Linked DNA regions of Homo sapiens. The protein of the gene in region 4 interacts with the protein of the main gene of each other region in a biochemical or structural test. Each region holds a gene or a part of one and is shown on either strand. Other genes may lie near its edges.

Evidence for each region.
Region 1: of the proteins of PSMD4 (region 4) and NEDD4, one has a biochemical effect on the other in vitro, tested with the Homo sapiens proteins (4 studies listed by BioGRID).
Region 2: the proteins of PSMD4 (region 4) and NUB1 form a complex in vitro, tested with the Homo sapiens proteins (2 studies listed by BioGRID).
Region 3: of the proteins of PSMD4 (region 4) and BTRC, one has a biochemical effect on the other in vitro, tested with the Homo sapiens proteins (2 studies listed by BioGRID).

Annotation. Positions count from the first base shown.
Region 1 is NC_000015.10:55,836,325-55,844,579, reverse strand, and holds part of NEDD4 (E3 ubiquitin-protein ligase NEDD4), read left to right. Parts: intron 1-2,416; coding exon 2,417-2,646; intron 2,647-3,852; coding exon 3,853-3,974; intron 3,975-4,062; coding exon 4,063-4,133; intron 4,134-5,975; coding exon 5,976-6,071; intron 6,072-6,399; coding exon 6,400-6,473; intron 6,474-6,730; coding exon 6,731-6,791; intron 6,792-8,255. UniProt on the Homo sapiens protein: E3 ubiquitin-protein ligase which accepts ubiquitin from an E2 ubiquitin-conjugating enzyme in the form of a thioester and then directly transfers the ubiquitin to targeted substrates. Specifically ubiquitinates 'Lys-63' in target proteins.
Region 2 is NC_000007.14:151,336,836-151,345,545, forward strand, and holds the start of NUB1 (NEDD8 ultimate buster 1), read left to right. Parts: upstream 1-4,976; 5' UTR 4,977-5,011; exon of another isoform or gene 5,012-5,130; intron 5,131-8,512; 5' UTR 8,513-8,514; coding exon 8,515-8,631; intron 8,632-8,710. UniProt on the Homo sapiens protein: Specific down-regulator of the NEDD8 conjugation system. Recruits NEDD8, UBD, and their conjugates to the proteasome for degradation. Isoform 1 promotes the degradation of NEDD8 more efficiently than isoform 2.
Region 3 is NC_000010.11:101,524,277-101,532,531, forward strand, and holds part of BTRC (F-box/WD repeat-containing protein 1A), read left to right. Parts: intron 1-1,736; coding exon 1,737-1,923; intron 1,924-6,960; coding exon 6,961-7,057; intron 7,058-8,018; coding exon 8,019-8,156; intron 8,157-8,255. UniProt on the Homo sapiens protein: Substrate recognition component of a SCF (SKP1-CUL1-F-box protein) E3 ubiquitin-protein ligase complex which mediates the ubiquitination and subsequent proteasomal degradation of target proteins. Recognizes and binds to phosphorylated target proteins.
Region 4 is NC_000001.11:151,264,005-151,268,505, reverse strand, and holds the end of PSMD4 (26S proteasome non-ATPase regulatory subunit 4), read right to left. Parts: coding exon 4,478-4,501; intron 3,675-4,477; coding exon 3,588-3,674; intron 3,341-3,587; coding exon 3,272-3,340; intron 3,113-3,271; coding exon 2,897-3,112; intron 2,503-2,896; coding exon 2,394-2,502; coding exon of another isoform or gene 2,385-2,393; intron 2,199-2,384; coding exon 2,067-2,198; intron 1,987-2,066; coding exon 1,919-1,986; intron 1,334-1,918; coding exon 1,163-1,333; 3' UTR 1,027-1,162; downstream 1-1,026. UniProt on the Homo sapiens protein: Component of the 26S proteasome, a multiprotein complex involved in the ATP-dependent degradation of ubiquitinated proteins.

The DNA.
Region 1 (8,255 bases), on a different chromosome or scaffold from region 4:
CCCAAAGTGTCACTCCTAGTGAATGGTGGAGTCAATAACACAGGACCAGATTCCAGAATGCATGCACTTGTCTACTACTCAGTTCAAACACTGAAGTTCTCTTGTACCCCCCTCTTCTTCCACTACCATTGCTCCTTCACAGGTCCCTCTGTCTTCTCTCACTCAGCTATTCCAGGGGTCTTTAACTGACCAGTGTGCCTCTTGTTTCTCCTCTTTAAAACCACCCTTTACACCCTGTCCCGTCAGCTTCTGAGAACCCAGCAATCTGACCGTGTGGCTCCCCAACCCAGAAACTCTCTTCTTAACTGCATTCACACTGTCCACCCTCTGGCCCCAGACTACTTTTTTGCATTTTTCCCCTATAATCCCTGCCTTCTTTCCCTTCCTCTCCCTTCTTCTCCTTCTGTGCCCTCTAGGTATTAAATATATCAGACCTCTCATGTATGCTGTTCCTCCGTCCTTCCCTCCCTTTCTCTGTCTAAAGACTTCCTCTCAAAGCCTTCTTGATTGCCTCATTTGAAGTCAATAGCTCAGTCTTTTATGCCCTGCAGAACATTGCTTCCATCTCTATCATCAGCAATTGTCCTCCTATTTTAAGTCTCAGAATTAGCATCATTTACACTTGTTTTTCACATATACGCCAGATGAGAAACTCCTTGAGGAAGCAAGGACATCTTACCCTATGTTTTTATTCCCTTTATTCCCCATCGTTGGCCCTACTACAATACCACCTGGCCCAGAGTAGGCCTTTGATAAATGCTTACCTGCACCAGCTGCCTAGTATCCAGTCTAAAGTTGCTGTTCTGCAAGCTTACCATTTTTTTAATGACATAAGCAGTATAGGAAACTGCTCATATCATGCTTATATTGCTTATATCAACTGCTTACATTATTATGTTTCTATAGGGCTTTCCATTTTCCCTAAATAAATTGAGAATGAAATTGATTTTTTTTCCTTAGAGCTAACCTTCTTTTTTGGAGGTGACAGAATATTGATGGCATGTTTTCTCTTACTGGTTTCCCCTGGAAATTTGCCCATGAAGTACTGAGGAATAAAATATTTAGATATATCTTTTGTAAAATTTACAATAAGTTCTGCCTAAAGCATAGTTGTGTACATTTGTCACATAAGCAAAGAACGTACAAAAGATTAGTGAGGCAATGTAGCTCCATTAATTAAGAGCACAGACTCAGGAGCTAAGACTTTCTTAAGTCGTCTTCTTCAGTTTTATGTGTAAAATGAAGACAATAATAGTAGCTTTCGCATAGTGTTGTTATGAGGTTAAACACGTTAACCTGCCATTCCAGGGTACCCATGCCTGGCTGTTTTAGTCCGTTTTCATGCTGCTGATAAAGACATACCTGAGACCAGGCAATTTACAAAAGGAAGAGGTTTATTGGACCTACAGTTCTACATGGCTAGGGAGGCCTCACAATCATGGCAGAAGGCAAGGAGGAGCAAGTCACATCTTACATGGATGGCAGCAGGCAAAGAGAGAGCTTGTGCATAGAAACCATTAGATGTCGTGAGACCCATTCACTATCATGAGAACAGTGCAGGAAAGATCCGCCCCCATAATTCAATCACCTCCCACCAGGTTCTTCCCATGACACATGGAGATTGTGGGAGTTACAATTCAAGATTAGATTTGGGTAGGGACACAGCCAGAATATATCACTGGCACAGTCTGTAAATGTCACCATCTGTTAATGAGTGAAGCAAGATAGACTCCAGGGAGGAAAGTAGAGGTAGGGAAAAGCCTGAACAGACAGGCACAACAGCTAGCAGGCAGTGGCTATCCTACAGGTCACAGAACGGTGTTCATTGGAACTTAATATGAAAAGGACTGTTAACGAAATGCCTTCATGGGGGCATTACCATCACCATCAATTGCTTCTTTAGGCCGGGTGCCATGGCTTATGCCTGTAATCTCAGCACTTTGGGAGGCCAAGGCGGGAGGATTGCTAGAGCTTAGGAGTTTGAGACCAGCCTGGGCAAGATGGCAAGACCTCAAAAACTTAAAAAATTAGTCAGGCATGATGGCATGCGCCTGTGGTCCAGTTACTTAGGAATCGGAAGCAAGAGGATCACTTGAGCCCATGAGGTCGAGGCTGCAGTAAGCCATGTTCACGCCACTGCACTCCAGCCTGGACTACAGAGCTGTCTCCAAAAACAAAAGCTTCTTCAGATGTAAAGAAGTCTATATTACTAAGTGATTAAAGAAAATGCAGAAACTGTCTCATACCATAGAGGAAACCAAGACAATATACCTAGTTGTGTTTTCCCTGAGTATATTACGTAAGGAAAAAGAGACTTGGACACAGGGTGTAGAGGGAATGTTATAACTTTATGAGAGATGGGTTTGTTATTATGTTGAACTGATTTAAACAGTACGTCTCTCCTCTGGATTTTCAGAATGACATTCCAAACAAATTTGAAATGAAACTTCGCCGAGCAACTGTTCTTGAAGACTCTTACCGGAGAATTATGGGTGTCAAGAGAGCAGACTTCCTGAAGGCTCGACTGTGGATTGAGTTTGATGGTGAAAAGGGATTGGATTATGGAGGAGTTGCCAGAGAATGGTTCTTCCTGATCTCAAAGGAAATGTTTAACCCTTATTATGGGTTGTTTGAATATTCTGCTACGTAAGTACCTTTACAATGATTATCGGCAGAAAAAGAAAAATCACTGTTTTAAAAGTAAGAGTCGGCCGGGTGCAGTGGCTCATGCCTGTAATCCCAGCACTTTGGGAGGCCGAGGCGGGCGGATCACAAGGTCAGGATATCGAGACCATCCTAGCTAACACGGTGAAACCCCGTCTCTACTAAAAATACAAAAACTTACCCAGGCGTGGTGGCGGGCGCCTGTAGTCCCAGCTACTCAGGAGGCTGAGGCAGGAGAATGGCGTGAACCCGGAAGGCGGAGCCGAGATCACGCCACTGCACTCCAGCCTGGGCAACAGAGCAAGACTCCTCTAAAAAAAAAAGTTACCATTTTAGCCATTTTAAATATACAATTTAGAGTCATTACATACATTCACATTGTTGTGCTGCCATCCCACTATCCAACTCTAGAACTTTTTCATCTTCCCAAAATGAAACCCTATACCCAGTAAGCACTCGCTCCCCATTCCCTGGCAGCCACCATTCTGCTTTCTGTCCCTATGAATTTGACTCCTCGGGTACCTCACATAAGTGGAATCATTCAATATTTGTCTTTTTGTGACCAGCTCATTTCACTTAACATGATGTCTTCAGGGTTCATCCATGTTGTAGTATGTATCAGAATGTCCTTCCTTTTTAAGGCAGAATAATATTCCATTATTTTTGCATATAATGCTTTGTTTAGGCTGGGCGTGGTGGCTCATGCCTGTAATCCCACCACTTTGGGAGGCCAAGGCTGGTGGATCACAATGCCAGGAGTTCAAGACCAGCCTGACCAACATAGTGAAACCCTGTCTCTACTAAAAATACAAAAATTAACCAGGCATGGTGGCGGGCGCCTGTAATTCCAGCTACTTGGGAGGCTGAGACAGGAGAATCACTTGAACCTGGGAGGCGGAGGTTGCAGTGAGCTGTGACCGTGTCATTGCACTCCAGCCTGGGCGAGAGCAAGACTCCATCTCAAAAACAAACGAACAAACAAAACTTTGTTTATACATTCATCTGCCAAAGGACATTTGGGTTATTTCCACTTTTTGACAGAAATTACTATTTTTAAAACCATTAAATCCAGTGGAGGAATGTGGTTCTAACAGTGGTAAACAACTCTTAAAGGAGGAAGATTATTTGTAATTATTTGTCATATTAAAGTTTTTCAAATGAAGTATTTAAATGGGGTTGTCTTTACAGGGACAATTATACCCTACAGATAAATCCAAACTCTGGATTGTGTAACGAAGATCACCTCTCTTACTTCAAGTTTATTGGTCGGGTAGCTGGAATGGCAGTTTATCATGGCAAACTGTTGGATGGTTAGTATTAAGTATAAACTTTTTACAATATAATTACCTGTTTTCTTTCACTTGGTAATCATCCTAAATGTATTTGGTTTTTTGCAAGGTTTTTTCATCCGCCCATTTTACAAGATGATGCTTCACAAACCAATAACCCTTCATGATATGGAATCTGTGGTATGTCTTTTTCACTTATAGTATAGACGAAGTATAATTTAACAAGCAGCTTGAACATTTTGAAGAATTTGCTTTTAATGACATGGAAATTAATATATTATCATGTTTCAAAATACAAATGAACTTTTTCCTCAACATTTTATTATGAAAATTTTCTAACATATAATAAAGTTGGAAGAATTTTACATTGGACAGTTGTATATCAACTACTCACAATTGCTTTTTTTCTAGATTTACTTTATCACATACCTATCTGTCTATCCATCAGTCTGTCTTAGTTTCTTCATGCATTTCAGAGTAAGTTATAGATAACATTAAACATCCCACTAAATACTTCAATAGGTTATACCAAGTTATATGTCTTTTGAATCAGTATTTGCATTATGATCTTTTATGATGAATGTTATATATATATATATATATATATATATATATATATATATATATTTTTTTTTTTTTTTTTTTTTTTTTTTGAGACAGAGTGTCACTCTGTTGCCAAGCTGGAGTGCAGTGGCGTGATCTTGGCTCACTGCAACCTCTGCTTTCCAAGTTCAAGCAATTCTCTGCCTCAGCCTCCTGTGTAGCTGGGACTACAGGCGCGCACCACCACACTCAGCTAATTTTTGTATATTTAGTAGAGACGGGGTTTCACCGTGTTCACCAGGATGGTCTCAGTCTTTTGACCTCGTTATCCGCCTGCCTCAGCGTCCCAAAGTGCTGGGATTACAGGCATGAGCCACCGCACCTGGCCAAATGGTGTATATTTTTTAAATGGCAGTCGAAAGGCAAAGCGTTATGGTTAGGTTCCTAGAAAAAAACAGAAGCCCAAGGATTAAACCCCGGACTGTAGCCGTGTTGTTTCCTGTGCTGCTGAATAGCCTCACACAATGTGTGTTCACATGAATTCCAGGGCATCTTCCTTAGTACCAAGTTCATTTTTTATTCTTTTCTTATTACATATTAACAGCACAAACAGTGTGATTCTTTATAAATCATAAGATTGCACAGTTACTTGAGTTGGTTCATTGAGCCTCTATATTTATTAAGAGATTTTTCTTTAACTCGGGCTGGGTATAAACAATGGCCTCCTCATAGCTACTTAAACATTTCACACTTAGTGCCGGACACAGGGGTGTGCAACTGTAATCCCAGCACTTTGGGAAGCTGAGGCAGGTGGATCACTTGAGGTCAGGAGTTTGAGACCAGCCTGGCCAACATGGTGATACTCTGTCTCTACAAAAAATACAAAAATTAGCCAGGCGTGGTGGTGCGCGCCTGTAGTCCCAGCTACTTGGGAGGCTGAGGTAGGAGGATCACTTGAGTCAAGGAGGTCGAGGCTGCAGTGAGCCACAGTCGCCCCACTGCACTCCAACCTAAGGGACAGAGCGAGACCCTGTCTCAAAAAAAAAAAAATTAAATTAAAAAATAAAAATAAAACATTTAACACGAAGTCACATAGGCATATGAGGAATGTGCTAAGTGCTCCTGGATATCCAGAGAAGTTAGGTTTTATCTGAAAACTTCTGTATTCATTCCTTTAACTGGATGATAAAATCTGTACCTCCACTGCTTCCACATAAACATAGATTCTAAACTTTTAAGTAGGCACCAATTGATTAATTGATTGATGCATTTTTACTCTTGCCCTTACCTGTCATCCATCTCTTTTTGTAATACACACACATACACACATACATTTTTGTTTATATATGTGTGTAAGTAAAGGATGTCCATCTGACCTCTCATCTTTTACCCAATTATTCAGACCCTCTACATACTGTTTTTTGCAATTTCAGGTGTGTTATAGATACAAATTTTAAATATGTAATTTTTCCCATCTAGGATAGTGAATATTACAATTCCCTAAGATGGATTCTTGAAAATGACCCAACAGAATTGGACCTCAGGTTTATCATAGATGAAGAACTTTTTGGACAGGTTTGTGAATTTTGATCAGTTAAAATGGCACATAAATTGTGAGACAAATGTTTAGATGTTAATACGTACACTTAATACATTCCTAGGCTCTGTTTTTACATTCATTTCCCAGTAACAAAAGCTGTCTCTGAGCAAGAATTTGTACTTTCTTTAACATTTGACTCGTTCCATATTTATTTTAGTAAAACTAGTATTTTAAGTTTTCTTAGTTTTTAACTTTTGACTGGACTTAATTTAAAACACCAAGTTTCTCGTATAACTACAATATGTATACTTTTTAAATTTTTCTCGCTAAAATAACATATCAAGTTATTGTGTTTAATTTTAGACACATCAACATGAGCTGAAAAATGGTGGATCAGAAATAGTTGTCACCAATAAGAACAAAAAGGAATATATTTAGTAAGTATTTTATTAGTATGTATTTTATTGGATATAATTTTGTACTTTATTCCAGAAAGACTCTTCTTACCATCTTTCTCTGTCCCCTTGTCCAGAATCTCAGTGTTCTTTTTCTCTATCACAATGCAGTAGCAAGCACTCATATTCAGCTTTTACCTTGGTCTCAGCTAGCCTTTAGTTTTTGTTTCTAACTAGAATAATTGTGCCTCAGAATTTTGTCTTGGTTCACATGAAAATGAAATGTTGTTTCTTTTTAGTCTTGTAATACAATGGCGATTTGTAAACCGAATCCAGAAGCAAATGGCTGCTTTTAAAGAGGTATTCATTTTCTTTTATTTGCTCTTCCATAATGTCACAGTATAACCTATAAGTTTCAAATATTAGGCCTCATCACATCTGAGAAAAATAAGTATATGGCTTGTTTTGTGAAATCATTCTAAATTATATTTTTATATTAACTAAATATTCCATTCAGTCATTCAAGAAGTCTAGACAATAAACATGGACAGGTCCCCTTTCCCCCAAGCCTTTTCCCTATTCCATTCTCTTCACTTTAGGACAGCAAAAGAACAAGAGTGCTTTAGGGATAGTATAACATATTGTTTGTTTTTCTAAATAGGATCACCTTACACATTTTGTTTTGTGACTTACTTTCTTCTTTTTTTTTTTTTTTTGAGCGCGGAGTGAGTCACTTTGTCGCCCAGGCTGGAATGCAGTGGCGTGATCTCGGCTCACTGCAACCTGCACCTCCCAGGTTCAAGCAATTCTCCTGCCTCAGCCTCCTGAGTAGCTGGGATTACAGGTGCCCGCCACCACGCCTGGCTAATTTTTGTATTTTTAGTAGAGACATGGTTTCACCATGTTGGTCGGGCTGGTCTCAAACTCCAGACCTCAAGTGATCCATCCACCTTGGCCTCCCAAAGTGCTGGGGTTACCAGTGTGAGCCACCGTGCTCGGCCTACTTTCTTCTTTTATCAGATATTTATTAGGGATATTTACATGTGACGACATATAGCTGCCTTTCTTTGTGGCTATATTTTATTCAGAATATAAATTAAAAAGTTACTTAAATTTTTCCAATTGGTAGACAGATTGTCAGAGCACTCATTTCTTAAGCTAACTTACAATCTTCTGTTAAATATGTATCTGGCTGGGCATGGTGGCTGACGCCTAAAATCCCAACACTTGAGGAGGCTGAGGCGGGAGGATTGCTTGAGCCCAGGAGTTCGAGACCAACGTGGACAACATAGGGAGACCTTATCTCTATAAAAAATTAAAAATTTGGGCGCGGTGGCTCATTCCTGTGATCCCAGCACTTTGGGAGTCCGAGGTGGGCAGATTGCCTGAGGTCAGGAGTTTGAGACTAGTCTGGCTAATGTGGTGAAACCCTGTCTCTACTAAAAATACAAAAAAATTAGCCGGACGTGGTGGCGTGCACGTGCAGTCCCAGCTACTCGGGAGGCTGAGGCAGGGGAATTGCTTGAACCTGAGAGGCAGAGGTTGCAGTGAGCCAAGATTACGCCACTGCACTCCATCCTGGGCAACAGAGCGAGACTCCGTCTCAAAAAAAAAATTAGCCTGGTGTCATGGCATGTGCATATGGTCACAGCTACTTGGGAGGCTGAGGCTGGAGGATCACTTGAGCCTGGGAAGTCGAGGCTACAGTCAGCTATGAGCTATGATGGCACTACTGCACTCCAGTCTGGGCTACAGAGTGAAACTTTGTCTCTAAAGTGTGTGTGTGTGTGTGTGTGTGTGTGTGTGTGTGTGTGTGTCACATAC
Region 2 (8,710 bases), on a different chromosome or scaffold from region 4:
TTCCTTGATTATAAATTCCCACATGTCCTAATTGGACTTGGAGTTGAGTCCAGTCTCTCTCCCCCACTGCAAGACCTGTTGCAGGGGTCCCTATACATATTGTCATGGCCTCTTTGAATGGCCTTCTTTAACAAGTGTCATAAATTATATATATTTGAGATGGATTTTCGCTCTGTCACTAGGCTGGAGTGCAGTGGCGCAATCTCAGCTCACTGCAAGCTCCGCCTCCGGGTTCAAGTGATTCTCCTGCCTCAGCCTCCCAAGTAGCTGGGACTACAGGCATGCGCCACCACGCCCAGCTAATTTTTGTATTTTAATAGAGACAGGGTTTCACCATGTTAGCCAGGATGGTCTCAATCTCTTGACCTCGTGATCTGCCCACCTTGGCCTCCCAAAGTGCTGGGATTACAGGCGTGAGCCACCGCTCCTAGCCCATAAATAATTTTTTAACATGCTGTTTGGAGACATAGTAATTTTATTCAGCATCTTAGTTGGATATGAAGAACATGGAAGAAAGAGAAATCAAGTTAGTGGTGAGGAAAAGTTGTTCACATCTGATTGGGAATCCAGAATTTCAATCACCCAAACAGATGATAGAAGCTAAAAGAAGTTACAAGGTCATTGCATAGGAGGATTACTCTGATTCCTAGGAAACATGGGCTAGGATGCCTTATTTCAGTGGAGGTCATGAATTCCTGTTGCCATAGTCACTGTGAGAAAGGGCTTGGCCTTCTCACCTGTGATTCAGGTAGAATCATTCTGGAAGCATGTAATCAGTCCTCAAATTTTGTGTTCTGGTTTTGAATCTCTGACATATTCTGGTCCAAATTTTTTAACCCAGGTTCATTTGTCTCAATAGTTGGGTAGGTGCAGCTGGGCGCGGTGGCTCACACCTGTAATCCCAGCACTTTGGGAGGCCAAGGCGGGCAGATGACGAGGTCAGGAGATCGAGACCATCCTGGCTAACATGGTGAAACCCCGCCTCTACTAAAAATACAAAAAATTAGCCGGGCATGGTGGTGGGTGCCTGTAGTACCAGCAACTTGGGAGGCTGAGGCAGGAGATTGGCGTGAACCCGGAAGGCGGAGCTTGCAGTGAGCTGAGATTGTGCCACTGCACTCCAGCCTGGGTGACAGAGCAAGACTCCGCCTCAAAAAAAAAAAAAAAAGTTGGGTAGGTGATACACTTACTCTAACAAGATAAAAAAATAAGGAGAGAGATGATAAATAAATAAATCCGTGGTATTAGTACTACTGAATTAAGTTCAGGATCATCTGTTTGTGTTTTATCCGTGTTTGTTTTTTAACCCCTTTTAATGTTAAAAAGAATTCGATATACAATATTAGTCATGTGACTTTAAGTTTAAGGGTGAATAAAAACTAAGGTGACCTTGGAAGTAAGAAGGTGGCTACTCATCACTGTAGGCTTACCATCTGAGAAACCTCCATGGGAGGCCAGAATAACTTACTTCTTTTGCTTTTTTAAACTTAATTCCAGAAGACATCACATATGCATGACAAAGATAAAAGCACAAGTCTGCACCATTTCTGTGTTCTCAATAAATCTTATTGCCTAAAATATTAAGGAACGTTGAACTAAACATGTGTATTTTCTTTTAGCACATTAAAGATGCCATTCCATTGTCTTCTGGATTTATTGTTTCTGAAGTCAGCTGACAATCTTAAAAGGCAATGCATCTTTTCCCCGGCACCTTTTTTTTGTTTAATTAAATTAAATTAATTTTTTTTTTTTTGAGATGGAGTCTCAATCTGTTGCCCAGGCTGGAGTGCAATGGTGCAATCTTTGCTCACTGCAACCTGCATCTCCCAGGTTCCAGCGATTCTCCTGCCTCGGCCTTCCAAGTAGCTGGGATGACAGGCGCCCTCCACCACAGCCAGCTAAGTTTTGTATTTTTAGTAGAGACGGGGTTTCATCGTATTCGTCAAACTCATCTCGAACTCCTGACCTCAGGTGATCCACCTGCCTCAGCCTCCCAAAGTGCTGGGATTACTAGCGTGAGCCACCGTACCTGGCCCTGGCACCTTTTAAGATTTTATCTTTTTCCTTGGTTTTCAATGGTTCTACTAGAATGCACTGGGTGTGGCTGATTTTGTATTTATCCTGCTTAGGAGTCATAGAACTTACAGAATTTGTAATTTGATGTCTTTCATCAGTTTTGCGAAACTTGGACTCTTGGTTATTATCTTTTCAAATATTGTTTCTGCCCCTTTCTCTCTTTTTCTAGAAACCTGAATACCTGGTAGAACTTTTCATCATGTCCCATGTGTCTCTAATGCTTGTTTCTGTATTTTCCATTCTTTCCTTCTATGCTTCAGTTTGGATATTTTCTATTGATGTGCCTGCAGTTCACTAATCGTGTCTTTAGTTTTGTCTAACATCCAGAGTTCACAGCCTCATTTATTACACTTTTCACCTCTAGAGTTTTCATTTGATTTATTTTTATAGATTTCAATACTCAGGTGAAAATTTTCATCTTTTTTTCTGTTTTCTTGAAAATGTTCATCAGAGTTATTTTAATCAGGCAACTCCAATATCTGACTCATCTGTGGGTCTGTTTCTATTGTCTTTTTCTTTTTTTATCTAGTAACTTTTTAATGAGATGCCAAATATAGCTTCTAAAAAGTTGTAGAGGCTTCAAATGTTATCATTCTCTCAGGAGGGTTTTTCCCTTTCCTCCACAAAACCAAAGACAGGAGTGGCCAATAACCTTAATCCAATCAGGGACTGCATGGAGTGAAGGCTGGGCTGAGGTTCTGGTAGGGTTCAAGCTACCGTTGCCCTCCAGTTTCCAACTGGGAACATGGTGTAGGCTCTGCAGTAACCCACTTCCACCACCACCCTAGCAGATCTCAGACTCGAATCTTTGTTTTGCAAGTCTATCAAAAACTTCTGCTTTCAGAGGCCTTCCATTTACATTTCAGTTTCTTGCCCCATACAAGCCTTGAATTCAGCAATTGTCCTTGGAATTTCCCCCTACATCGCTGTGTTGGTTTTGTGTCCCCAGCAGTGGCCCTCTGTGGTCTCAAAGTCTAAATTCTCAGCCTCATGCTTGTATCCAGAACTGGCAAAAGCCCTCACACACCAATACAAGCCACTGCAGACATTAGCTCACCCCTTGAAGGTTCCTCATTCTCTGGAATATCAAGTCCCCCCATTCTTGCCTCAGCAGCTTTCACTGCCTTCAAACAGATGTTTTCTGACTTCGCTTTCTGGCTTTTCTAGTTGTTGTTAGTGGGAGCCTTGGTCTACTGCAAGCTGCTCCATCACACCTGAGCGTGGACATTCAATTTCCTGATGGTCTACTACGTAAATGTAAAAGTGAAACTATCTTTGTTACTCATCTCAGAGAAAGCCCTCAGAAAAAAATGTCAGAACAGTTTCTGTTGTCCTTCTACCTTGCTGCAATTGCTACTGAGCAATCAACGGGCTTTTTCCTGATGTGCTAGAAGCCAACACCATGGCACGGGCTTTTGAGAAAAGAAAGGCTTTATTGTGAGTTGACTGTCAAGGAGACATGAGGAAACCCTCAGCTCTGTCTCCTTGAGCTTGGGGCTGGGTTGGGTTTTATAAGCATAGGGTAATGACGCATGATCGGATTAGATTTTGCGATGAGGTGATGCTGGGATGCTCATCTGACTGGACCCTGCCATGGGGTGACACCAGGGCTTGATCTGATTGCATTCTGGATCTCACCATGCAGTGCCCATTTCTTAATTCAGTCCCTGCTTTGATCTGAGCACTCAGGTTCCGCCCCTGGTTGCATGCTTGGTTCACCTGGGCATCCTCAGGTTACGTGCGAAACCTTCCATCTGGGAGTCCATGCAACTGAAAAACAACTCACAACTTGGGTATATAAAAGGCGAATCAGATTGGTCTGGTGCGGTTATACAGTTATTAATATCCCTTTGTCAGAAGTCAAAATTACCACAAATTTAGATTAAAGATCTATTGGTTTTTATTGATTCATGAATCAGGATGGCATCTTCTCTGAAAATTTAGAAACGGTGCTCCAACGAGCTGGGCAGAGGAGGTGGGCTTTATAGGTAGAAAAGGGCTAAAGAAAGCAGCAACAGGGAACGAAAAACGGATTGGTCACTGCAAGGTTACAGGAGTCCCCTCTCGTCCACACACAGGTGGTGTGTCCCAAGACCCACAGTGGATGCCTGAAACCTCGGATAGTACTGCACCCCATTTTACATACACACACATATATATATACTATATATATACACACACTTCATTTTTCCTATACATACGTACATACCTACGATAAAGTTTAATTTATTAGGCACAGTAAGAGATTAACAGCAATAACTGATAATAAAATAGAAGCGTCACTGTTGAGCACAGCCTTGGGAATAGGACCTTGGAAGTAGGCAGAGCTCCCTAGGCCTTGTGGTCCCTAGTGGCCGTGGACAGCATGGGGGAGGAAATTCCCGGGAAGCAGCCTAATTTCACCCCAGGGAAGCCCCTGGTGGGCTTGTGGAGGGCGGGGTGAAAAGCCGCTGGTTTAGGGAAGGGGTCCAGCCTAGGCTGAGGAATGAGATGCGGGTTGGGACGGTCCCGACCCTTCCCCCAGCCTCTTTCAAGGATTCTGGAGAAACAAAGCCAGGATCCATTTCCTCTTGATGGCTGGCAAACTGAGCCCGGGCGGGAAGTCCTGGAAGACTGAGCCTGGGGTGGCGTTGGACACCAACTCCCAGGTCCTCGCCCCACACGGCCACATCCTCGCCCAGCCCCGCCTCCGCTTAGCTCCGCCCCGTCGCGGCTCCGCCCCGCGGTAACCACGCCCACACAACCGTATCCCCGCCCACAGCTGGCTTCGCCTTGGCCCCGCCCACAACCCTCTTTCCAAGCGGCGGCGGCGGCGGCGGCGCGAAGGCGACAGCGGCGGCGGGGGCGGGGCTGGCCTCACCCGGAATGAAAACAAACGGCGGCCGCTGCCGCATCCGGGCACTCTGCTGGTCGCGGCGGGAGTGGCGTGGCGCAGGTGAGGACACGGCGGCCGAGTGTCCTCGACCCCAGCCTCAGCAGCACTGCTTGGCGCCCCGGTTCCCGGTCCGACTGGGCACCTCTCCTGGCCAGGGGTGGAGCGGCCGCGGGGCGGGGGTGAGCAGCCATGCGTGGAGCTGGGCCGGGGCCGGGGCCGGGGCCGGGAGCGGTGGGCCGGGCTTCGGGACGCGCTGGCCGTTCGGGGCCCTTTGGTTTGCCCTGAGTTAGGCAGAGGTGTGGGGTATTTAAAAGAAAATATTGAGTGTATCGGTTTGGGGAGAGAAAGGAATAAATATGTCTATAAAAAATTAGCCAAATGCTATACTTGAATCGTAACACTCCGAGTATACCATTTGGGATTTATTTGCAATCAAAGCCAGATTTTCTTTGCTATTTAATGACAAGACACTTGATTTTCTCGAACCTTGACGACCTGATTCTATCATTCTCACCTCCTTCCCTTTTATTTTTAATCAAGAATCTTTCATTTTCCTAAGAAAAAATGAATGTGTCTTGACTAGATATAGTTGTGTTTCAACTATATATAATGTATACTTGAAAAGGTGTGGCTAAATGTAGCAATGATCGATTCATTACAAAAGTGAAAGTGAAATTTTTAAAGGATCGTTATAACGTTTCACTTTCTGCTTGGACCACGGAGTGATATTAATGAGTTTCGTCTTTTCTTAGTTACAATGTGAAACATTGTATGGCATGCATGAAACTTTTTCAGTTCTCATTTCAGTTAAAATTAAAAACTGACTTATTAAACTTGACTTAAAATATGTCGCCACTTACTCTGTTGTCTATAACTGAAGTTCCTTAAGTTTCAAGACAGTGGTTTAATTTTTTTTTAACATTAAATCTTATTCGGTGTAACCCTGGAGCTCTTGTTTGCTCCCTGGAGTGTCTGACACGCACTGGGTTTGTAACACTCCTTCGTCCTTCTGTCAAGTGGTGGCTTGGATGGCATCTTTTTAAAAATTTTTTATTTGTTTATTTTTTTAGTAGAGACGGGGTTTCACCATGTTGACCAGGCTGGTCTTGAACTCCTGACCTCAGGTGATCCACTGGCCTCGGCCTCCCAAGTGCTGGGATTACAGGTGTGAGCCACCGCGCCCGGCCTTGGATGGCATCTCTGAGTACCGCATCAGCCTTTCAAATTGCTTGGCTCCAGTAACCAGCCTGTGAAATTACTGTCCCCCAGTGGGGAGACAGTAGGGTTGCTGTGATATTTTATTCAGAATTTCTGAAGATTCATGAGTAGTATGTAAAGTAGTTTTTAAAGTTATTTGTGTTTGAAAAGCTAACGCTCTAAGTACTAATATGCTTTGCTGTGATAAGCCGTTTGTCAGTGCTTGAAAAATGGAGGATTCTCCCATGGGCCACCCAGGTTGCACACAGCAGCCTCATTGGCTGTGTTATTCCTTCCTCTCTTTTCTCCTCCCTGTCCTGATTAGCCTAATTCTTGTCCCCGCACTGACATAAAATAGATTTGAACTTTCTTTTAAAAAATATTTGTTTATGAAATACACAAGCTACCAAAGTTTTCAAAGATTTCAAAGTTGTGTGAATTGGGTTTGGGGGGATGTGGAATACTGGCCCTCAATAGAAGAAAGAAATTTATCTTGGTAATATTAACTCATATTTTTTCCACTCTCTAGAACTTGTCTTCATCATTCAGGGGCTAATAACATTTTTCTTTACTTATTGCTTGTCTGATTTGGGAAACCTTAAAGCGCTGTGCTACACCTGCCAGCTGCCTTACATCTCAGCCGCCTCACTCACCTTTGAATTGCTGTGCTAGTATGGGATGAGTAGACAGCTCCATCGCGGTACATACTTCTCTGGGAGAGAGAAGTTACATACCTGGAACAGGCAAGCAGCAAGGGACTCCATGACGGAAGTTCAGAGTCCAGTGTTGTGGGTGGAAGTTGTGCTCGTTAAGATGCTGCCTAATTTTGTGTCTTTGCCTGAGTCATGGTACAAACTCAGGGCCCTAATTTTCTCAGCTGTAAAATGATCCGATCAGTGTTAGATTTGAATAGTAGGGCCAGGCGCGGTGGCTCAGGCCTGTAATCCCAGCACTTTGGGAGGCCGAGGCGGGCGGATCACAAGGTCAGGAGATTGAGACCATCCTGGCCAACACGGTGAAACCCCATCTCTACTAAAAATACAAAAAATCAGCCGGGCGTGGTGGCGGGCGCCTGTAGTCCCAGCTACTGGGGAGGCTGAGGCAGGAGAATGGCGTGAACCCGGGAGGCGGAGCTTGCAGTGAGCCGAGATTGTACCACTGCACTCTAGCCTGGGCGACAGAGTGAGACTCCCTCTCAAAAAAAAAAAAAAAAAAAAAAAAAAAAAAAAAGTAGATGTGCTGTTAGGCTGTTAATCAGAAAATATGCAAAATTTTCCTAGTATTGTAATCTTTTTAATTTAAAAAATTCTGACATAGAAAATATTTATATATTTATTATTATTTTGAGACGGAGTCTCACTCTGTTGCCCAGGCTGGAGTGCAGTGGTGCCATCTCGGCTCACTACAACCTCTGCCTCCTGGATTCAAGCGATTCTCCTGCCTCAGTCTCCCGAGTAGCTGGGATTACAGGTACCTGCCACCACGCCCGGCTAATTGTTCATATATTTTTTTTTTTTTAGTAGAGATAGGGCTTCACCATGTTGACCAGGCTGGTCTCGAACTCCTGACCTCAGCTCCTGAACTCAGCCTCCCAAAGTGCTGGGGTTACAGGCCTGAGCCACCACACCCATCCGAAAATATTTATTATCGATAGTTTACAGTTCAAGCAAGCTTTTCTTTATATTTAACTACCAGGATGGTTGGCCTTTTGTTTTATGTTAAACTAGCCAAAGTATGAGAGAATTTACAAGCTCACGCCTGTAATCCCAGCGTTTTGAGACCAAGGTGGGTGGATCACTTGAGGTCAGGAATTCGAGACCAGCCTGGCCAACATGGCGAAACCCCGTCTCTACTAAAAATATGAAAATTAGCCGGGCGTGGTGGCGCATGCCTGTAATCCCAGTGAGTAGGGAGGCTGATGCAGGGGAATTGCTTGAACCCAGGGGGCGGAGCTTGCAGTGAGCCGAGATCGCACCACTGCACTCCAGCCTGGGCGACAGAGCGAGACTCCGTCTCAAAAAAGAAAAAAAGAAGTTCACGACTCGAGGGATTTATCTTTCTCTTATTTTCTCTTTTCTCTTAGATAAGAGAATAGCAGATTAAGAAATAGAAACATGTAATAATCCTTGCTACATATTAGCAACTTTGAAATACATATTTTATATATGTAATATATATAATTGAACATATATTTCTATATATATTTTTAGAGAAGTCTGGAGCTCATTTAAACCATAGTAATTTATATTTAATGACAGAGGAAGGGAGCTTTGCTTACCCAACAAAGCACCTTAACATGTAGGTAAGTTATTAACATTTTAAAATGCGATGTGGAGTTTTATTAATGTATTGTTTTGCTTTCAGGGATGGCACAAAAGAAATATCTTCAAGCAAAATTGACCCAGTTTTTAAGGGAAGACAGGATTCAACTTTGGAAACCTCCATATACAGATGAAAATAAAAAAGTTGGTTTGGCATTAAAGGTATTTTTCTTTTAAGACATCAATAATTAGCAGCATTATAAATCTCCTTGGTAAATAAGATTCTGAATTGTCAGGCATG
Region 3 (8,255 bases), on a different chromosome or scaffold from region 4:
TCTTTGTACAAAACAGTCTGTGTGTACCTCATTACTTTGTTCTCCCCAGTCACTGAGACATGTTACTATCTCAAGCTTATACCACTAAGAATTGAACAGGAGTTGATTAGACCTGTGTATCCTTTACCTAATATTGATCCCTGGTTTGTATCCACTGACCACTCTATGAGGTATTAAATCATCAATCTAATGCTTTATGGCCATTTAAACTTATAAACCTATATACCATCTGGCTATGTTTAGTAAACCAAACTACTTCAAAAAGTGCCTGTAGTCCATTAATGTAATGGGTTTGTTTGGAGTGTTAGGTGAAATTACTTCCAAAGACTTATTTATAGGTACATGGTGAAATGATCAGGAACAATTTGATGGCACCCATTAAAAACACAGGACTGCATTTTGGAAATTTCTGATGGTGTAGAAAGTTTTAATATAAATTGTACCATTACTGTATTTAACATGAAGAACTAATTATTATATCTTTAATTGGCTTTTGTTCATGTTCCTTTAATAAGAATTGGGTAATGCATGTCTCCATCTGCTTATGCTTACATACGAACATGTGATGCCAGCCAAACAAAATCCATTTAATGCTTTCTTTCTCAAGTCTGCTGAAAAGTGTGACTGATATCCATACAATCTTTATAATTAAAATGATATGATTCAGGGGAAAGGCCCAAAATGAAATGCCATGTTCTCTTTCTTGTTAAGTTTGTGCCTACGGGAGTGAGAGTATGAAGGAATCCTTCTGAACTATTTAAGTCTGTAGAAAACCTCTGATATGTACTTTGTAAACAGAAATAACTTTGAATGTTTTTATCTCAGTTGTAAATGTAGAACAGCAGGCAAAAGAAGTTTTTTTAGTGAGATCATCCTATTTTATAGGATCTTTTCTTCTGAGACCTCAGTACAGATTTGGGTGGTGGAGAACTTTAATTGGGAAGCCCTTCTGGTTTACACTCCCCAAGATCTGTTCTCCACTGTTTTCCTCTGCACCTCCTACAAAATATTCTCTGAAATGCTAACCAAGTTATCTTTTGGTCTGGAATTTTTTTTCATTTTTGCCCAACTGTCATTTAGGTTTTATAGCAGCAGCTACTCTCAAATATAGTTTTTTTAAATCTGAAATTAAACCCATTCTTGAACTTAAACATACATCTCTGTCTTTCTCTTGGGATATTTCCATGCCATTCTGTATTTCCTTCTTCTCTCCTTTCTGCATGCCCAAAATTCTATAACCCAGCACATTCTGACTTAGTGCCTCTCCCCTAGTACATTTAAAGGACATTTCTTTTACCGAACAGCTTTGGAACTACAGCAGTAATAGAAACAGAATGAGAAATGGACCTAATATAGAGATTTGGGGGGGTCTGAATCATAGAGTTTGAGATGCCATCCATAGAACATCCCCTAGTGCTGAAATCCATATAGATAGATGTGAATTGTTTTCTGGAATCCTTTTTATTTTTAATGTCTTGGGGGGTTTGCTGGTTGTTAGCTTTAACTTCCTTATCTAAAGGAAGATGGAAAATACTGTTCATTTCTGTAACCTTATGGAAAAATTATTGACACTCATTTTACCCAAGCCTCTGTTTGAAAAAGAAACTGGACCACACTAGGGACAATGATGTGCCTTCATAGCAGAACAAATGCTGTTCTGTTTTAAAGGACCTTTTGTAAAAAATCATTCGCCACCTTCTGTGTTCTTTTTCTTTGCCTCCTCCCCCTACTGAAAGCTCGGGGATTGGATCATATTGCTGAGAACATTCTGTCATACCTGGATGCCAAATCACTATGTGCTGCTGAACTTGTGTGCAAGGAATGGTACCGAGTGACCTCTGATGGCATGCTGTGGAAGAAGCTTATCGAGAGAATGGTCAGGACAGATTCTCTGTGGAGAGGCCTGGCAGAACGAAGAGGATGGTGAGCCTTTAACTTTTCTTACTCTTATACGGCTTCAGGACCTGGCCATTCACAGTCACTGAAAGATTTTTGGGGAGCCAATGAGACCACTTCTCATTTAATATGGTGATTTTGTTGATTTCTAGCTTAAAATGTAACAGAGAACAAATGTTCATATACTCAGCAGTTTTTCTTCTTACCTGTCACTCACAAAATGACATGATATTGTATTAATACTGCTTTGCAAAAAATAATGGAAAGCTGATCAGCCCTCCTGTTTAAAACATTCTGTTATCTGGGCAGAAGTTGGTATCCTGTGGCTGGGCACAGTGCGTTCACGCCTGCAATCCCAGCACTTTCGGAGGCCAAGGTGGGCAGATCACTCGAGGCCAGGAGTTTGAGACCAGCCTGGCCAACGTGGCGAAACCCCAACTCTACTAAAAATACAAAATTTAGCCGAGTATGGTGGCGTGCACCTGTAATCCCAGCTACTGTAGAGGCTGAGGCAGGAGAATCGCATGAACCCTAGGTTTCTTTCAGAAAATTTCTTGCCTTTATCTTATGCCTCTGGTGTTTTGTCACCTTTGTAATCAAAAATTATTTTTAAGCCCAAGTGGAATAAGAACTCTAGCCATCAGAAAAAGTGAAAATGAAATTAAGTATAAATCATTGTTTCTTCTTAAGACTTCTGTTTTTCAAGATTTTCTGACTTAATTCCGAATTCCCCAAAGCATCATATAGTTAGCAGTCTAAGAGACTTCACTAATTTTTTTGTTGTTCTCTTAACAGTACTATTTCATTAGAACTTCTGAAAGATATCTTTCTTTAAATACTTTTCTCTCAGAGTATGTCTCTAGAATGTCACTATAGGAAAGCTACGTAGTAATAGTTCACAAATAAAGGTGACATATTAAATATTCTCATTGACAGAAAAAATTATAATAGGCATGTGTGTGCTTAGTGATGTCCTTCCAAATTAATTTTATCAGTTGTTTATCTTGGATCATAAAGAGGAAAACAGTTAAAAGTAGAGAACACTTTTAAAAGATAAATATTCATGGGCCAGCTTTCCTTTGAATTTTCATGAAAAAGTAGTTGGCTCTCTTTCTTTTTTTCTATCTTTGAAATTTATTAACACATAATAAATACAATGACCTATAAATATTATACCAAATGCCTCAGATTTTTATCATTCTGGCTATTAGGAAGACTGTTTAAATTTTTCTCTCAAATTGAATTAAAGGAACAAAAAAACTAGGCAATTTTTAGGCTGTGTAACAAAGAATATTGTTGGCCGGGTGGGGTGGCTCACGCCTGTAATCCCAACAGTTTTGGAGGCCAAGGCAAGAGGATCGTTTGAGCCCAGGAGTTTGATACCAGGCTGGGCAACATATTGAGACCTCATCTCTACAAAAAAATCAAAAAATTAGCTGGGCCTGGTGGCGCATGCCTGTAATCCCAGCCACTCAGGAGGCTAAGGTGGGAGGATGGCTTGAGTCTGGGAAGTTGAGGCTGCAGTGAGCTGTGGTCATGCCACTGCACTCCAGCCTGGGCAACAGAGCAAGACCCTGTCTCTTTCTCTGTCTCTCTCTCTCTCTCTCTCTCTCTCTCTCACATACACACACACACACACACACACACAAAAGAATATTATTACTACTTCTCAAATATGTTTTTTAATTCTTATTTCGCTACATAGAAAAATAGAAATCTTTCATAACCTACTTCATACTTTGGAAATAAACTCTTTAATAGTACAACAAAGCAAATAAAAATGGAGTTATATGGTATTCGGGGTCCATCATTTTGCTAAGAGTGCTGGGACCAGCCTTGGGGATACAGCAGGCAGTTGCTTACATGAGAAAATTTTAGGGCAGCTGAGAAGATTTCTGTATCCCTCAGAAAAAAAGAATCTCGTCTCCAAATAACTCCTGAAATTTCAGTTAAGGAGATTCATTCCTTTAGCTATAAAGGTTCTGTTACCTGTTAAAATACATTGTGTTCCCATTTGGACTGTAAATGACAGTAAACCTTCATCATAAATTGGGAGTTTACTGAGTCCTTTTTTGAAGGCAGAAAGATCAAGAAGTAAGTGGGCAGTTCTTGGCAGATGGATGTGAAAATGCCAAAGGTAAAAGGCTCCACAGTTTTGCTTGGGATTGGCACTAAATGGCAAGATCTTTTATGTTAGTTACAAAGAAAAAACAATCATTGAGAAGATGGCTTTTGAGCCTTTCTAAAGGGTAGGTGAAGTAATCCAGGATCCAGCACTAATTACCACTTTTTTCCCCTATCTCTTTATCCACAGAAACCCATTCCCGCTCTTTTGAGTATCCTTCAGAGTTCTGACTATATCCCCTTGTCTTTGGGCATGTTTATCCTCTTAATCCCATGATAAACCCATGAAATTCCAAATACTTATACATCCCGTGTCAACTTCCTCCATTATTCCCTCGACTTTCTTGTTGCTGCTTCTGTTTTTACATGTTGACTTTATTCCTGTGTCAGTTTTCTTCCCTTTTTTAAAAAAAAATTTACTCCATCAGTTTCTCATTTTCTTCTTTCAAGTTGTCTTACCAAGCCTAATACGTCAATAAAGTCTTTCTGTGTTATACTTTTCCCCATATGCTAGCTTTGAAAGGTTCTTCCATTTCTACTAACCAAAAATAGTAAGTAAATACAGTTTTCTAATAAAGCTTTTATCTCTAAGTTTTAACTTGGTATTTGATGTTGTATTTTATATCTAGATGGATTTGACAGTCTTCCCCTGGGACATGAACTCTGTAGTTTTCTCTCTTGAATAATACTGAATATGCTGTCTGCTCAGTAATGGTAACTCTTAAAAGTATAATAAAAGACCACTTGGGAAAAGTCAATTTTCTTAATCAGCAGATCACATTTTATGATAACATTCTGAATTTAATATTTAACGTTTATCATGTACTCACATTCTTGTAGGTACTAGGCATTTCACATAGAAGTAGTCCCTGTTTTCAAAGATCTTCCATCATAAAAGGTTTTGACTTAAAACATAAAGACAGAAGCCAGTTTTCAGTACCTAGCCACCTCTTTCTGTAACACTTTGATTTGAAGAAATTCAGATACTTTACCAAGACATGGTAAATGCAGTGAGGTGGAAAACAAGATCAGAAGCTTATGTGAGTTCTCTTTCCTTAGAATGTAGATAGTATCATTGCATAGGAAGAAAGTCTTGGAGTGCTAGAGATTAAAAGAAGACAGGAATCTCAGGAATGGTGGGCATTGAGAAACAATAAAGTAGTTAAGAATGTGGGTGGGCTCAGGAGTCAGACTTAAAATCTTCACATTCAAAATCTATTATTTGCCTGCAAAGTGTTTGTAGAATAATATTGTACAGAGAAATGTACCATTAATCTGGAATTCTTTCATAACGCATCTTGTTTCCCCTTTTGTTTATGCTGGTGTATCATGTTTCATTAATCCCCCTTTTTATAAGTATTATTTTCACTTCTCTATTTCAGATTTTCTTTTCTGTATTAACACAGAAGTTAGAGCCATCTACCTTCCTGATAGGAAATTTTCTCAACTAATTTTCAGGGTATATAACAGGGAGAGGGCAGGGGAGAAACACTCCTGGAGACACCAAACAATTAATTATATTGTAATGGAGCTATAGAGGGAGGAGTGGATGACTGGCCCAGAGAAAACATGATTTCTCTGGTGCCAGGATTACACTCAGAGGCATTTCTGCCTCTCTCCACTTTGCAAGGCACGGTGCCAGTGAGAACAGCAGTTAGTACACCCATAGTGGGGTTTACTAGCTTCCACACCGTGTTTGGTGGGTTCTTAACTTCCGGATGAGGAATTAAATTTTTTACCCAGCAGGAAGTGATTGCCATTTACTGATTTTTTTTTTGTAGCAAAGATCTAGCTTGGGATACGAGTATTCCAGAGATGTGCTGTCATAAGGAAGGAGATACTAACAAATGTTGCTCACTGGAATCAGGGAAGGCAGTTAAGTACATGTGTATGTACACAGCCAGGAACACACCTGTGAAAGTCAGTTTCATGCCTTAGACTTGATAGCAGTGCTCTTAGGCATTTCTTTTTTTTCTTCTTCCCTAGCTGCTGCTGGACACACCTGTGATCCTTTTGTTTTCTGATGAAATGAACTGAATTGCTCCTTTCAAAGCATAGTTGCACTGATTAGCAGCAGCCTGGGTGACTGAGCAGCCACCACACCTTACCCTGTACAAATAAAGACCTAGCAAAAGTGATCTCCATGCCAGAGGCATTGCTGCTGTCTACAATGCTGGGGACCACTGACACAGTAAAAGGGAAAAAAAAAAAAACCTATAGGGCATGTGCTAGTTCAAAGGTAATAGTTACCATTACTAACAAAATTTCCAAAAGATGAGGCCAGTGAATCTAAGCAGTAGTCTTAATAGAGCAATAGATGAATTCTGATTGTACATATTCCATTTGTTTACTGATATTATAATATTCCTAAAGGCTTGGTACTCCGATGTTCTACACTGGAAATAATCATGTTTTACCCAAAAGCAAATCAGTGTTGGTCAGATTCTTTAGAGCCCAGAAGGTTACTCTTTGACATGGGACTCCTGAAATCAGGCTTACCTTTGCTCCTCCGCAGACAGCTATGGAGAGTATATGGAATGGTAACCGTGAAAACACTTTCAAAATATATGAAGTTCCTTATAAATATATAATGTCGGCCGGGTGTGATGGCTCACGCCTGTAATCCCAGCACTTTGGGAGGCCAAGCAGGCGGGTCATTTGAGGCCAGGAGTTCAAGACCAGCCTGACCAACATGGTGAAACCCCATCTCTACTAAAATACAAAAATTAGCCAGCATGGTGGCAGATGACTGTAATCACAGCTACTCAGGAGGCTGAGGCAGGAGAATCACTTGAACCCAGGAAGCGGAGGTTGCAGTGAGCCAACATCACACTGCTGCACTCCAGCCTGGGCAACAGAGCGAGACTCTGTCTCAAAATATATATGTATTTAAATATATAATGTCATGATTTTCACTGGGAAATATTTGTTATTTTTTAGGGGACAGTATTTATTCAAAAACAAACCTCCTGACGGGAATGCTCCTCCCAACTCTTTTTATAGAGCACTTTATCCTAAAATTATACAAGACATTGAGGTAAGAATCTATGTATTTTGGGGTATTGCCCAAGGGCACAGAATTATCAGCATTCTTCAGTCACAGTATGGTTACAGCAAGCCCATTAAGGTTTATTGACATGAGTTGGGAATCAATCTCTTAGCTGGCCATGGTGGCTCACACCTGTAATCCCAGCATTTTTGGAGGCTGAGGTCAGGAGTTTGAGACCAGCCTGGCTAACATGGTGAGACCCCTGTCTCTACTAAAAATACAAAAATTAGCCAGGCATGGTGGCACACACCTGTAATTCCAGCTACTCAGGAGGCTGAGATAGGAGAATCACTTGAACCTGGGAGGCACATGTTGCAGTGAGCCAAGATCGCACCACTGCACTCCCTCCTGAACGACAGAGCGAGACTCCATCAAAAAAAAAGAAAAGGAAAAGAAAATCAATCTCTTTACAGGCGAGTAGGGTAGGTAAAATAAATTGCTAGGCAAAATTTTAAAGCTTTAAAAAATGGTTTACTAATAAGTAGATGAGAGAGTTAAAGAGATTGATCCCTTCATACATAGCAGTGTGACTGGTAAACTTGTACTCATAAGCTCATATTTAAATATCTTCTGAATTGAACCTCCTTAGAAGTTCATCAGTAGCAATCAGTAGCAATGGCCATCACATATGTAAGAGCACTGAGTGTATAACCTCACGTAGTTCGTAGCTTTTCTTCTCTTGATGAGTAGTCTCTTTCCACCAGATTTATTATTTAATTGAACAAATTATAGGCAGGGAAGTTCTAGGAAACAACCTTTAATTACCTTGCAAAAGGAAGAATATTTTATAAATATAGATAGTAGCCTTTTAAAGACATTTTTTAGTTTTCCCTAAGTTGTGTATATCCCATAGAGTAAAGCATTGAGCCATTGATTGTCATTAAAGCCTAAAAAGAGTTTGATTCTAGGTGTTTCCTAACACTGCCTCTTTCCCATTCCTTCTTCTCAGACAATAGAATCTAATTGGAGATGTGGAAGACATAGTTTACAGAGAATTCACTGCCGAAGTGAAACAAGCAAAGGAGTTTACTGTTTACAGTATGATGATCAGAAAATAGTAAGCGGCCTTCGAGACAACACAATCAAGGTGAGGTCTATTCAGTTGTAGAAAGGTAGCAGAGGGAGCAAGAGTGACCACATTCATAGCGCAGTCTAAAGCATAAACTCTAAGCATTATTTCTAGAAA
Region 4 (4,501 bases):
CGCCCAGGCTGGAATGCAGTGGCATGATCTCAGCTCACTGCAACCTCCGCCTCCTGGGTTCAAGCAATTCTCCTGCCTCAGCCTCCTGAGTAGCTGGAATTACAGGCGTGTGCCACCACACCCGGCTAATTTTTTTTCTATTTTTAGTAGAGACGGGGTTTCACCATATTGGTCAGGCTGGTCTCAAACTCCTGACCTTGTGATCTGCCCACCTCGGCCTCCCAAAGTGCTGGGATTACAGGTGTGAGCCACCGCACCTGGCTGAAAAAAAAAAAAACTTTAAAAAAAATTATAAAGGGAATAGATGTTCCTTGTAAAATAATATTTAAACCGTATAATATAAAGTCTCAAGGTAAGGTTACTTGTAGAGTGGATTTTATGCATGTACACTGAGAGGAAAACGCCAGCAGGGTGTTTAGGACAGCAGAGACTCAGGAGACAGCATAACTGATGCAGGGAGGTGCTGGCAGGAGGGAGGGAGCCAGAACTTCCTGCCTCACGGCCTTGACTCTCTGTAAAGATGTCAGGCTTCTGTTGAGAGTGATCGGGGAGTAGAGGAAGGTATAGTAGTTGCTACAAGGAACTGACTTGCAGGGCTGAGCAGAGTCACTGAAGGCAGCTGACCAATGGGAAACTACTGTTTGGTGGTGATTCAACTCCTGGCGAGACAGGTCTGAGACAAGTTTGGATTTTGATCCTGGTTCTGCCTCTTCATTAGCTAAATATCCTTGGCCAAATAACCTAAACTTGCTGAACCTCAGAAGTCCACATGAAAAAACTGAAAAGGTTGAGTATCATTCCATGCTTGGGGTTCAGCTGTGTGAGTGCAGAGTAAAAGTTATTGGCAAGAAGGTGGTTTAAATAAGGTCTTCGTTCATTAGAAATGGAAACCTGGCTCCTGGGCCTGTAATCCCAGCACGTTAGGAGGCCCAGACAGGTGGAAACAGAGACATAGAGAACTCAACAAGGAAGGTTCTCCTTCAGGCCAGGGACTCCTCCCCTCTCTCACACTCAAAACCATCAATATTTGAAGCAAAAAAGGAAAAAAAGTTGCCAAGCTTTATTTAGGCTGTAATGGTTACAGATAACACACATCTAACCCTATATTCCGTGCTTCCCATGCAGTCCCCTAAGCAGACTCAGCTACCCTTTCCCTCCAGTCTCACTTCTTGTCTTCCTCCTTCTTGTCCTTCTTGCCGTCCTTGGTGGCCTGGGAGGCCAGGGAGCCCATAGCATTTCGAATGGCTTCATTGTTGGGATCCACACCTGGGAGGTTCTCTAGGACACTCTGAAGGAACTCGGGGTCCTGCATCACGTCGTAATCATCCTCCTCCTGCAAACAGGCAGTGTGAGCTCAAGGGAGGGTATGGAGCGGCAGGAAGTAAGCAGGTGTTAAGGACAGGAGCATGCCGCTGCCAGAGGCCCCCTGCCTTCTGACTGTGTGGGGATCTGGGCACCTCTGGTCGACGTAAGGAAAGGACAAGTCAGCAAAATCCTTTATACAGCATGAATGCAGTTATTACTAACCAAATAGAGGGGCCTGCTGAGAACTCTGTTAATTGAGCTCTGAGGAGAAAAACAGATGCCATCACATTGAGGTTTCCTGCTCTCAAGACACCCAGTTCTCCTTTTTCTTTTTCCCAGACCCGCTTTTTTCCCTCCTGGGAAGACATCCTAGAGAACTGCCCAGGCTGCTCCCACCAGCAAGAAAGGAAAATTACAGAACAAGAGGACATTTCTCCAACTCTGACCATTAGCATTGCTACCTTAGCAAGGTTTACATGTAAGAAATGCAAATCCATGTGTTTCCCTCTGCTCCTCAAAGGACTTAGCTATGGTAGAAATACTCCCAGCCCCAGAGGGATGAGGATCTAAATTCAAGGACTTTAAACCTGATGGGGGCAGGGTTGGGTCTCACCTTGGCTGGCTCAGATGTGTCCATAGCTGAGCTGGCATCAATGTCTGCTGATTCCGCCTGGCCAAACTCTGAGGAAGAGAGGTCAGTCTGTTCAGTTACACTTCCTCACCCCAACCTCTGCCTAGGCACCACCCAGGCTCTGGCTCACCTGCTCCCTGCAGGGACATCTGCATGGCATAAGCAATCTGCTCTTCCTCAGTCATACTGCTTAGGTCAGGAAGCCCAGTGCGGCCAAACTCTTGCTGGCTGATGGTCATCTTCAGCAGGGCATCGTCTGAGTCTGGGAAAAGGAAAAGAGGAGCAGGGTAGAATTGGTGCCATATCCACACAGGCCAGCCTCCAAGGCCATTCCTAGCCCAGCCCTCCCACATATTCCTACCCTGTCAGACCTCCACACTCTCCCTGCAGTGCCTACACCCAGCTTTCAATGTTTAGCATCCCGCAGTCCCAGGACTTCGGATTCCACCTCTTTCACCTTCAGTCCCAGTCGTAGCAATCCCGGCCTCAGCAGCAGAAGCTGCAGCTGCCCGCCGGGCCTCCTCCTCCTGCCGCTGCCGCTGCTCTTCCATAGATACACGAAGGGCCTGGTGAAGGGCAGGGCATAATCAGGGCTCCCCTGCCCTCACTCCTACAGGGAGCTGGGAAAGTCAGTTGGGGTGTGGGAAAGGAACATAAAGGGGCAGCTTCTGGTTTATCACACAGAGAAGAAGCTGGAGGGATAAGCAGTGGTACGGGATTAAAAAGTAAGGACTTGGGAGAAGCCTCGGTTTTCATCAGAAGTGAACAAGAAAGCATCTGACACTGGTGCCCCTAGAGATCAGACAGCATTATAGGGAAGAGGCGGCAAAAGGAGGTCTTGGAAAATGAGTGATTGGTAGTGTCTAGGACTATCCAGCCTGATAGAAGCTCTGTGATGTGTGTGCCAGAAGAGAACAAAGAGGGACCTTTGGACTCTACCTGGGGTCAACATTTGCTCACCAAGGCCAGCTCAGGATCAGCACTGGGATCTACTCCAAATTCAAAGTCACTGGCACCAAGACCCAGCATGGCACCACCTTCACCAGCCAAAATCGGAGAACTGATGAGAGCATCAGCCAAACTGGGCCCAGGAGGCACTGTCACCAGATGAGAACCGGTTCCATCTTTGCCATTCAACGTGTTTACAAAGGCTGTCAGCTTTTCTGTGTTCACCTCCTGGGGAGGAAAGAACACATGATGCCCTTCTTCAGGCCTTGCTCCCTGTTCTTTCCCATTTCTGCACTACTCTGCCACAGTACCCGCACTCCTCAGGGTTAAGGACCATTCTGTTTATGACCAAATTAAGTCAATGCCCTCCAATCAGTCCCTACTCACCTCTTCCCCAAAATTGATAATGTCAACATTTACTTTCTCCTTCTTGAGGCGTTTAGCCAGTTTCACCAGCTGGGAAGAAGGGGAGAAAAATCAAGAAATCTGTTCCATACTCGAGGGGGGGAAAGGACCCGCCGCATAAAAGCATACAGAAATCTATTGACCTCCCCAAGGTCCTCCAACAGAATCACTGAATTCTCCACATTCACCTTTCCCCAAAGTGATGAGCCTGATGCCTCTGCCAGGTTCTCCTGAGGGCTGGAAGACCTCAGTCCCAAACATGGGCTCCCCACATTCCCCAGCTGCCACTTGGACTCACATCCTTCTCATTGTCCTCCACTGGGCTTCCCACAAAGGCAATGATGCGCATCTTGTGATTCTTGCCTTGTCGGTGCTTCAGAGCCAGCTTGTAAAGGGAGAGGAAGTTCTCAGAGTTAACCAGAGGAATCACTCAGCTCTTTCCTCTGTCACTCGGTTCCCTTTTTCTTACAGTTTCTTTGTACCTGAAGTACACCATCTACCATCACGTTCACACAAGATTTAACACCCCCACCTCCTCCCTTTTTGCTATGACTCTCTGTGCATAAAGAAGGGAGGTTAATTCTCTTTCTCTCTTTTTTTTTTTTTGAGATGGAGTCTCGCTCTGTCGCCCAGTCTGGAGTGCAGTGGCGTGATCTCAGTTCACTGCAACCTCCACCTCCCGGGTTCCAGCGATTATCCTGCCTCAGCCTTCCTAGTACTGGCTAATTTTTATATTTTCAGTAGAGATGGGGTTTCACCACGTTGGCCAGATTGGTCTCGAACTCGTGACGTCAGGTGATCTGCCCGTGTTAGCCTCCCAAAGTGCTGGGATTACAGGTGTGAGCCACCGCGCCCGGCCTTTTTTTTTTTTTTTTTAGAGAAACAGGGTCTCCCTATGTGCCCAGGCTGGTCTTGAACTGCTAGCCTTCAGCAATCCTCCTCCCCTGGCCTCCCAAAGTGATGGGATTACAGGCATGAACTACCACGCCCAGCCTTAATTCTCAATTCTAGGGATTTTTCCCTTCACAACCCTCAACTACCCTGGGATTCATCCCCCATATCCTTTCTACTCCAAGTTAGCTTTCTCTTGCTCTGGTCCTAGCTCAGGATTCCAGGGGAGAAATGAGTATGATGGAGGCAGGACCTCAGAGCAGGGAGGAAAGGTCCAGGGAACCCAGTAGGACTCACATGGGCCACGCGGATGCCCGTGCA